3 linked regions of the Homo sapiens genome follow. The protein of the gene in region 3 interacts with the protein of the main gene of each other region in a biochemical or structural test. Each region holds a gene or a part of one and is shown on either strand. Other genes may lie near its edges.

Region 1 (3,654 bases), on a different chromosome or scaffold from region 3:
TCAATCCCTGTTTCCATGATGCAGTTTTACCTATTTGAACAAAAATTTTGATTAAAAGTGTTCTAATATATTATCTTATACAATATGGTTATCCTACAATATAAAATATATTGGCAATGTTAATGATTTGATGCATTTTATTAAGAGGACTGTGTGGAGTGATTATTTCAAACAAGTTAGGAGTCTTTTGGATTTTTAATCTTTTTGAGAGTAACACCTTTCTTCATTATTTGTTTCCCTTTCATTTCGTTCCCCAGGGCACCGAAGCCAAAGCACTGTCCATGCCGGAGAAGTGGAAGTTGAGCGGGGTGTATAAGCTGCAGTACATGCATCCTCTCTGCGAGGGCAGCTCCGCTACTCTCACCTGTGTGCCTTTGGGAAACCTGATTGTTGTAAATGGTAATTGGATAGCATAGTCATGGTTGCTGGTTTATGGATTCTTAGACGTTTCTTTCCAAATGTTTTATAGCCACTTCAGTGATTGGCTATCATGATACAGTTGTGAGTCCTTCTCAACTGTATTTAATTCCTAGGCCACTGATAACATGTGTCTGGAAGATCATGGAATATGAGGTTGTTGAGTTGTTTAGGCCAGCACCCTTCATTCTTAGGGCATCCATTTTTTTGATGTCTTAATCTTTGTAATATTTTGCTCTGGGGGATAATATTTAATATTATCCAATATTATCAGTATTTGATAATAGGAGTGAAATGAGCCTATTACACATGAACTCCTTGGAGAATACTTTTTCTTTATGCCTGTGGATGGCTTTATTTTTTTAACGAAGGTCTTGAACTGAGACATGGGGAGCTAGACCTGGGGTCACCATTTATCCAAGTTGGCATCCCTGTGACCAGCAATGCACAACAACAATGCTAAGTTTACTGGGGCCTTAGTAAGTATGTGTTTTATTTGCTGGGCCTCCCCCAACAAATGTCACTCTGTATGAATAACTTTTCCTGTTTATTTTTCATATTAAGAAATTTCACTGGAATAGCAATGCATTCCATCTCTGTGTTTTAGTTCAGGTACCACTTTGTTTCATATCAACTCCTAGTGTTCTGTCATAATCACACATACTGGAGATCCATTTGAATGACTAGGAGCTTTCATTTTTGTTCTGTTTTGTTTTTTGAGATTTATCCTTTTAGTTAGAAAGATAGCGTGGTAAGATTGGGAGGGCTGCGTTTGTTGTTTTTTTATTCAGTATAGCTCATCTTTTTCGTTTAGCAAAGGCAGTTGCTTTGGTAAGCCTTAGGTCAAAGGTTTAGGTCAGAGGTTTTCAGTATGTTCTGTAGCTACTCCTTTCTGCTGAGATGAAAGTTAGGTAGAAGCCCTATCACCACTTAAACCTTGAGCAGCAAAATGTTTATCTGTTTCATTTATTGAAGTTCTGTGTAAGATTCTGTTTGAAAAAATGTTGGTTTTTTTTTTTCCTGCTAAAATCTATTTTGAAAGCTACTGACTCATGCCATCTTGATCTTTGACATGTTGGATAGTTCTCATTCCCCTCTTACAAAGTTTCTTTTTTCTTTTTTTTGAGACAGGGTCTTGCTCTGTCGCCCAGGCTGGAGTGCAGTAGGCAGAGCATGGATCATTGCATCCTTGACCTCCTAGGCTCAAGCAGTCTTCCTCCTTGGCCTCCTGAGTAGCTAGGACCACAGGCGTGTACCACCACACCTGGCTATTTTTTATTTTATTTTTTGTAGAGATGAAGTGTCACTGTGTTGCCCAGGCTGGTCTCAAACTCCTGGGTTTGAAGCAATATTCCTGCCTTGACTTCCCAAAGTGCTGGGATTACAGGTGTGAACCATGCCTGGCCTCTTACGAAATTTCTATTTCTTTAGTCATAAGATTCTTTGAAATGTTATTTAAAAGTCTCAAAACTAGGTTTAATAGCTTTGGTGGTACTTCACATTTGTCAGGACATGACTGTCTGATGACACTAGGACCTAGCAATGTCTATTCAGCAGTTCATCATAATTAGCAAATGTAGCTTTTACTTTGGCATTCTTGTACACAGAGTGTCAACAGTTTCTGCCTTCATCTAATCATTCTGCTACATCACATCATAACTTGCAAGGTTGGAGTTACCAAATAGTAAATGTGTAGTTGCAAATTTTGCCTTGATTTTTTATAAAAGCACTTAATGACGTGTATAATAACCTCTATTCACTAGATTCAGGATACTTAATATAAAAAGAATAACTGCTGAATGTCTTGATGATTTCCTAATTTCTGATGTTTTGTTTCTTTACTGTTCTTGGCAAATCAGCTCTTGGCAGACTTGCATGGCAGCCAGCCGTTCCAGGATTGATTCTTTGAAAAGGAGCAGTGTGTCTTTAAATCTTTCCTTCACCCAAGGCATCCTGCTTGGTGCACATGTGCATAAGCACATCACTGGGCTCTTTCATGGAATGAGATGAAGTGCGCCTTTGTATACATGATTAAAATTGAACCCTCTGGTGATGTCAAGTATATTTATCCTTTGGGTCTGGAAGAGAGATGATGCTGTGAAAACTAGCAAGATTATTTTAATGAACAAAGGAAGACTCATTGCCAAGGGTTAAATAAAAAATAAATGGAGTTTTTAGTGACTTCATTAGAAATAATGATTTTATTGTGTTTAGTTGCCTCTGATTAACCTTGTTGCATATCTTTAAGTTACTAATAAGCTGCTGCCTAGTGGATTTTATATAAAGATGCTTACTGTAGTTTTTAAAGGTGGTGTTGTAGAGTGATTTTACTTCATGTGATGCCAGGTTTACACTTTTGAACTTGCTATCAGAGAAAGAAATAGGCGAAGAACAGTTTGTTTTGTATAATGTGTCCTTAGTATATTAGGAGCTAGGAAATGCAAGCCCATACTAAAAAAGAAAGGCAGTTGATGAAGTGACAGAATTCTTTATCATCTTTCTTTTGTTTATTTACAGCTACACTAAAAATCAACAATGAGATTAGAAGTGTGAAAAGATTGCAGCTGCTACCAGAATCTTTTATTTGCAAAGAGAAACTAGGTAATACAAACATTATTTAACTTTTGGGGTGAAACTCTGTGAAATTCATATAAGAAAAAAATCTGAAAGATAATGTTCAAAAGACTGAAAATTTCTATATGAGATTAAAGCATATTGAAGACAATGTGGTTTGTTTAAGAATGCAAAGGTTTAAAAAATGTGAAAGTTTTGCTTATAATTTGAGGAGTTTGTTTCTTTCCTGTTTTTCTTAGGGTCATAGTGTGCTGAATTATATTGTTATGAGATAACACTAGTATGTAATTTATTACACTCTGATGATAGTTCATAGTTTCTGTACTAATCTTTGGAGATCTCCCTATTGAGATCTCCATATTGGTATTTAACCAATATGGAGGGGATCTGTGTTTCATGAAAGTAATTCAATGTCAAGTTCATTATTGAAGATTATTGGAGGAAAAACTACAATCAAAATGTTTGTTTAAACCTATATAAATTTGATGGCTATTTTATACAGATTGATACTTTACCAAAGGTTTGCATTCTAGGTAAGGTTTTGCTTAAACTCTATAAAATTATTAATAGATACAAAGAAGACAGGTTTTCCCTTTTATCATTTTTCAGTTAAACCAAACTGTGAGAGGCAGTTATAGGTGGTTGGAGCAGAAGAGATAAGGT
Region 2 (3,654 bases), on a different chromosome or scaffold from region 3:
GATGCTTGAGAAGTGCTAGTCTAGGACTTATAGTAAGTGGCAGAGTTCAGACTGGATGTAGCTTAGTCCAGGAATATTTCCAGGTAATGCTAACTTAGATTTTTCTCTCTCTTTTTGTGTGTGTTTGTTTGTTTTTTGGTATTTTCTTTCCATAGTGTCAAAAGTTTGGACAGTATAACAAAGAAGACCCCACTTCTTTTAGGTTATCAGATTCCTTTTCTCTATATCCTCAGGTAAGTAATGTATGTTTCTAAAATAACTACAGAGCAATAAATTTTGATAGAAATTAACTTTATTCTTAGGGTAAAGTGAAGACTTTTTAATGTGTTGAGACTCAGTCTGTAGGTGACAGAGATTGTTCAACCCAAGTCGAATATGTGTCTAGGCAAGACAGCACCCTACGCCCTACAGAAGATAGAGATGACATGCAGAGGGGAGAAAACTCATGCATACATTTTCATGAACAGGCAAAATAGGATCATTGATATAAGGCCGTAAAAAATATCTCTCATGTGTAGAAGTTCTGGGGAAACAGCTACCTCAGCAACAAACCAAGAAAATGAGCACACATGGAGATGAAGATAACAAAACAAAACCACAGTTAGTACAACAAATATTTAATAATATGTCTGTGGTTATTATGTGCATCATAACCAGGAGTGAGCAATAAGCAGCTCCTGAAAGTAACTGCACTCTGCATGAACCAAGCCTTTGGAAGCCATTGGACAAGAGAGAGGAGCAGGAGAAGTAGATGAATTTCCGTCTCCATTGTAACTTAGGAAATAGAGCACAATTCATGGGTGTCTATAAGGATTACAGGAGCTGAGGCCAACTGAGTATTAAATATTTAGCACAATGCCAGTAACCTGTTCAGCACTAAATGTGACCTAGCTCCATAGCAGGTGCCTGGGACTCTGAGGTGTCCATGTGCCAGAGGTTAAAGCTGTGTGGTGTTGTGAGAAGAGCCCTGGACCGGCCAGAGTCAGGTTGAGGTTCCAGTGCTGGCTCCGCAGGGGCTGACCTTAGAGGAGGTTCCAAAGCCCCGTAGAGTTTGGTTTCCCACCTCTAGCAGTGGGGAGTTGGTCTGGTGAAGTGGTTTGCAGTTTTTTTTTTTTTTTTTTTTTTTTTTAAAGCCATGGAATCCTTTCTTTGAGAGGAGCTGCCCTTAAAAGCCAGCACATAAAGCAGACAGAGTTGGTGCTTCTCTGGTTGTGCCTGTGTACCACCCCCACACTGGGTCCCACCAGAGCCCTCATCCCTGGGCCCCTGAGGACTTGATGAAGACTCTAAGAGCACAGCTTGAAAACCAGATGAAATGCTTTCTCAGATTCCTTCTGTCAAGGCATTCTAGGAAAGAGGCCAACAGCCCAGTCTCTAGAGCCAGGCGGCCAGGTGTAGAGTCCAGCTGTGACACTCAGTAGTGGGGTGACCTTGGACAAGTTGCTCGCCCCTCTGTGCCTCAGTTTCCTCACCTGTAAACTAGGGATGGTAAGAGAACTTACCTCATGGGCTTATTGGAAGGATTAAATAGTTCTTGTCAAGTGCTTTGTGACTTGCATGTAGGATGTATTAGATGTCAGCCTTGATTATTATTTAGGAACCTATGATTGAATATTTGGAGTCTCAGGAAGCTTTACACTTCACAAGGCAGCTCATTTTCGTGTTCTGGCAACTCTTTAATGTGAGCTGAAAGTCTGCCCCCACCCCTTCTTCTCATCCTCGAGGGCGAGAACCTATGGTTGCAGTGTCATCCCTTGTCCCTTTCTCCCCTGCACCAACACTTCACCATCCCAGCTTGTGTCCTGAGCTGTCATCTGCTGTTCCTGTGCCTGGAATCCCCTTCCCCCTGGCCCTGTGGCCTCCTCAGCCACGTCTCTCAGGGTGCACTGTCAGTCCCCGGAGCTCTAGGAAGTCTCCTCCTGGCCCTCCACCCCCACTCCCCACTGCTATCCTGTACTCTGGCTCATAACTCGTAGCCCGAGTGTGCCTTTCTCACTGGGCCTGACTTCTGAGAGCAGATATTCTGTCTCCACTGCCTGGCACAGTGACTCTGGAAATAAACATTTCTTTGGCTTTCCTCTTAACTGTGGAAGCTTTGACATACCCAGAGGCCCTTTTCTTAAAAAAATTTTGTATTTTTTTAAAAATTTTTAATTTTTAATTTTTTTGAGACGGAGTTTTGCTCTTGTTGCCCAGGCTGGAGTGCAATGGCCTGATCTCAGCTCACCGCAACCTCCCCCTACTGGGTTCAAGTGATTTTCCTGCCTCAGCCTCCTGAGTAGCTGGGATTACAGGCGCCCACCACCACACCCGGGTAATTTTGGATTTTTAGTAGAGACGGGGTTTCTCCATGTTGGTCAGGCTGGTCTTGAACTCCCGACCTCAGGTGATCCGCCCGCCTCGGCCTCCCAAAGTGCTGGGATTACAGGCGTGAGCCACCACGCCTGGCCAAAGGCCCTTTAAAAAAAAAAATTAATTTTTAATGTGGTAAAACACACATAACAAAATTTACCATCTTAACCATTTTTAAGCATACCGTTGAGTAGTGTTACGTGTATTCCCATTATTGAGCAACTGATGTCTAGAATTTTTCACTTTGCAGAGCTGAAACTCTGTGCTCATTAAGCAACAACTCTCAGTTTTCCTCTTTCCCTAGCCCCTGGTGCCCCCTTATGCTTTCTGTTCTGTGAAACCAGAGAGCCCTTTTCTGGGTTCTCCTATTTCAGAGCCCTGAGGTAGATCTACTCTGTGGGTGTCTAAGAAGGTTACAATTATATGCATTTCTCTTTCCGTTCTTTGTGAATGCAGTTTATGTTCCATCTGAGAAGATCTCCATTTCTTCAAGTGTTTAACAACAGTCCTGATGAGTCGTCATATTACAGACATCATTTTGCCCGGCAGGACCTGACCCAGTCCCTCATCATGATCCAGCCCATTCTCTACTCTTACTCCTTTCATGGGCCACCAGAGGTGAGGCTCTACCCAAATGCTTTCCTGAGGATTGGAATCACCTAACATATATTCTTTTTTAAGCAAATTTACTTAGCAGAACTGTAAAAAAGAAGTAAAATTTGGAGTTTTTATAGTAATTTAACATTATTTCTATTAAAAAATACCTTTAGGAAAATGTCAAAGGACATATAAAGCTATTATTTGTGAAAGGCAGGAATAAATGTAAAAAACTCTAGGAAATAACTTGGATGCTTTCTTTTTCCTTGTGCTTGTATACTTACATCCAACAATTCCATGTCTTGTATCTGAAGGAAAGACTCCTAGATACAGAGTAGACTTTGTGCCAAAAAAAAAAATAGTAAAGGAACTACTATAATAGAGGATCAAATAACAATCCGAATGTTTAATATAGGAAAATAAATAAGTAACCTGAGAAATGCAGTTGACCCTCAGTATTCATGGAAGATTGGTTCCAGGACCTCCCTCAGATACCAGAATTCTTAGATACTCAAGTTACTAATATAAAATTACATAATATTTGCATGTAACCTTGGCACATCCTCCTATATACTTTAAATCATCTCTAGATTAGTTATAATACCTAATATAATGTAAGTACCATGTAAATAATTGTCATACTGTATGGTTTAGGGAATAATGACAAGAAAACAAGTCTGTACATGTACAGTACAGATGCATATT
Region 3 (3,654 bases):
TCAAAACAGGGAAGGCTGTAGACAACTGTTTACTGAATAAGAGAGATTTAAATGAAGCAATGTATCCTTTAACTTTTATGGAGAAGGACGCAAAGGTCAAGTTATAATTAAAAGCTAGGAACTTTGTATATAATACAAAAAGAAATTCGATTTATATTATTAAATGTCAATGTACCAATTAGCCTTCTGTACTGAACCATCTATTTATTGACCTGTTTCTAACCCAGTGAACAACAGTCACGTTAAATTCACGCTGAAAGGGCCATATTTCTCCCTACAGAAAAAGTCTGGCATAAGTAAGGGTTCATGGGATCGTTATTGATAAAAAGGATGGTTCATTTCGATGACTGAGCAACATGCATCCTATTCCTTTTTTTTTTTTTTTTTTTTGAGACGGAGTCTCACTCTGTCGCCCAGGCTGGAGTGCAGTGGCGTGATCTCGGCTCACTGCAACCTCCACTTCCCAGGTTCAAGCGATTCTCCTGCCTCAGCCTCCTGAGTAGCTGGGACCACAGGTGCACACTACCACGCCTGGCTAATTTTTGTATTTTCAGTAGAGACAGGGTTTCACCATGTTGGCCAGGATGGTCTCATTCTCCTGACCTCGTGATCCACCCACCTCAGCTTCCCAAAGTGCTGGGATTACAGGCGTGAGCCACCACGCCCAGCCGAAGCATCCTATTCTTTCTCCTTGTCAGCACAGAACAGACCTCAGTACAGATACCAGTAATAAAAAAGCTGAAATACAGTAATTCCAAACAAAATAATCTGAAAACTATAGCATATATACCATCTTTTCCTTCCTTCCTCCCTCCCCTGCCTCTTCGCCCCTCTGCCTCTCTCTCTTTTCTCCTCCTCGCCCCCACCCCCACCACTGTCCTTTTCTCCTTCCTCCTCCCTCTCCTCTCTGTCCTCATGCCTGGCCTATAGTATCTTCTCATACAGCTTTGGGTGAGGGAAAAAAGAAGTTATAAGCCAATAGTTTCCCAACTGCCAAGTTACTTCTTCATAATTTTTAGGCTTAAGTTGTGGTAGGCCTGTGATTCAAGGCTGAACTCTTTAAGGGATCTGTTTGGCTTTCTTATCTATAAGCTAGTTGGGAAGGACAGAAATCATAACTTGGTATAAGATCCAAATTTTCAGCCAGGTGCAGGGGTTCATGCCTGTAATCTCAGTGCTGTGGGAGGATCACTTGAGGCCAGGAGTTCGAGGTTGCAGCGAGCTATGATCATGCCACTGCACTCCAGCCAGAGCAAAATAATAATAAAAATATTACCCAAATTTCTGAGTCCCTACAACAGGCTTTTATTATGGACCTGAAGTAATGGAGGAAACTTCTATATTCACTGTAAATGACGAGTTGATACTTCCTGCTTCAATTATGTGCAGCAAAGTCTTTATACCTGACACTAGTTAGCCTGATTTAGCCTCACTTTATGAAATGAGTAGGGAAGTATGGAATAGACTCAGTTTGGAGATCTTAACACAAAATGCATCTCAATATAGGTCTGAAATAGAAATCTTTGCAGGAGAGGACCACCCATCATTTCAATCCATTTATCTCTCTCTGCTTCAGAAAGGCCTCCCCTGACCACTCAAACACCCTTTAACCCATCAGTCACCCCCTACTCCCTAGTGCCTGAACTTTCATTATAGTGCTTATCACTACCTGAAATTCTATTATTTTAACTTGTTTTTTGTCTTTGTTCCCCACAAGAGCTTGAGGACCTTGTCCCGTTTATCCCCATATTCTCAGCCAGGTCTGACACATACTAAATATTACATAAATATTTGTTGAATGAATGAAAGAATCACAAACTACTCATAATTCCTCTCATTAAAATACTCCATATCTACTTATTTCAATGACATATAGCATGAGGGGCTCTGAGAAGCAATTCAATTTTCATTCAATACAGAGGAAAGAAAAGAGTACTAACATCTATGGAGCACCATAATGGGCCCTGCACAATAAAAACCTCACCCATCTCAATCAGTCCTTCTAACAAGTTTATGAGCTCTACGATTCCCATATTACAGAAACAGGACCAGAGAAGAAGGGTTAAGTAATCCCTGCAAGACCCACATAACCTTTAAATGGTGGAGCTGCTGGGATCTGAACCAAATCTATCTTACTTCAGATCTAGTCTCTACCATACCACAAGGCTTCTCAAGAAGACTAAGATGTTTAACTCAGTTATACAACAATGTGTACGTTAAACTAAAGACACAAAGATGAGTAAGACATTAAAGAGTTCACAAAGTAAACACTACACTACATGAAAAGTGCCATGTAAAACAGGATGTAATGGTACTACAGTATCTTTTCATACAACTTTTGGTGAGGGGGAAAAAAGAAGTTATAAGCCAATGGGACACATAGGGGACACAGAAAGTCAAACATTGATCCAGGTAAAGAGAACATTATATTCAAAGAACTGTAAGGTGTTCAGTATAGCTAGAGTCAGAGTGGGAGGAAGCAAATAAAGAGAATGGAAGAGGGAAAGATCAGAGATGAGGCAAAGACAGTGCTTGCTCGTCTGTTCACTAATTCCTTAGGATAAGGTCCTACTATGTGCCAGGCCTTATTTTAGACAAGCATTGCAATGATGAATGAAACCTAGTCTCTGTTCAAGCAGCTTATAGTTTATCCCAGGAGATGGGCAAATACACAACTGCAACACAGAGTGGTATATGATAACATAGGTGCATTCACTGGATACTGAGATGTTCCTAGACAGAAAGAAGGTGAATCAGTCAGATTAACCAAGGCACTATATTCACAGAGACCCTTATAAGAAAGACTGCCTCAGGCTAGGCACAGTGGCTCACGCCTGTAATCCCAGCACTTTGGGAGACGGGCGGATCACCTGAGGTCAGGAGTTTGAGACCAACCTGGACAATATTGTGAAACCCCGTCTCTACTAAAAATACAAAAATTAGCCGGGAGTAGTGGTACGCGCCTATAATCCCAGCTACTTGGGAGGCTGAGGCAGGAGAATTGCTTGAACCTGGGAGGCAGAGGTTGCAGTGAGCCGAGATCATGCCATTGCACTCCAGCCTGGGCAAAAAGAGCGCAACTCCATCTCAAAAAAAAGACTGCCTCATTCAGCACAACCACCAAATGCTAAGCTCAGCTGGCCAGGTTCTGCACCAGTCTCCAGTTCTCCTCCTACCTCAAATCAAACCACAGCTGCCTAAAGCAGGGGTGGAAATATGACCAAAGACAAGACAATCCATTGGCTGAACTGAGACCTAGAATGTGGCCTACCATATGAAAAGGAGCTCTGGCACTTAGGAGTTGCACTCCAGAAGCTAAAATGATGCATAGGGAGAATCCTTGAAGCAGTCGTCAAAATATAAGAAAAAGTGGAACGGCCGGGCGTGGTGGCTCATGCCTGTAATCCCAGCACTTTGGGAGGCAGAGGCGGGCGGATCATGAGGTCAGGGGATTGAGACCATCCTGGCTAACACGGTGAAATACAAAAAATACAAAAAATACAAAAAATTAGCCGGGCGTGGTGGCGGGCGCCTGTAGTCCCAGCTACTTGGGAGGCTGAGGCAGGAGAATGGTGTGAACCCCGGGGAGCAGAGCCTGCAGTGAGCCAAGATTGCACCACCGCACTGCAGCCTGGGTGAAAGCGAGACTCCATC

Evidence for each region.
Region 1: of the proteins of TMED10 (region 3) and FBXO7, one has a biochemical effect on the other in vitro, tested with the Homo sapiens proteins (one large-scale study listed by BioGRID).
Region 2: the proteins of TMED10 (region 3) and SEC23B interact in a test that uses a peptide from one of them, tested with the Homo sapiens proteins (one study listed by BioGRID).

What each region holds. Positions count from the first base shown.
Region 1 is NC_000022.11:32,484,811-32,488,464, forward strand, and holds part of FBXO7 (F-box only protein 7), read left to right. Parts: intron 1-257; coding exon 258-399; intron 400-2,934; coding exon 2,935-3,018; intron 3,019-3,654. UniProt on the Homo sapiens protein: Substrate recognition component of a SCF (SKP1-CUL1-F-box protein) E3 ubiquitin-protein ligase complex which mediates the ubiquitination and subsequent proteasomal degradation of target proteins and plays a role in several biological processes such as cell cycle, cell proliferation, or maintenance of chromosome stability.
Region 2 is NC_000020.11:18,545,801-18,549,454, forward strand, and holds part of SEC23B (protein transport protein Sec23B), read left to right. Parts: intron 1-155; coding exon 156-233; intron 234-2,808; coding exon 2,809-2,970; intron 2,971-3,654. UniProt on the Homo sapiens protein: Component of the coat protein complex II (COPII) which promotes the formation of transport vesicles from the endoplasmic reticulum (ER).
Region 3 is NC_000014.9:75,166,570-75,170,223, forward strand, and holds part of TMED10 (transmembrane emp24 domain-containing protein 10 precursor), read right to left. Parts: intron 1-3,654. UniProt on the Homo sapiens protein: Cargo receptor involved in protein vesicular trafficking and quality control in the endoplasmic reticulum (ER) and Golgi.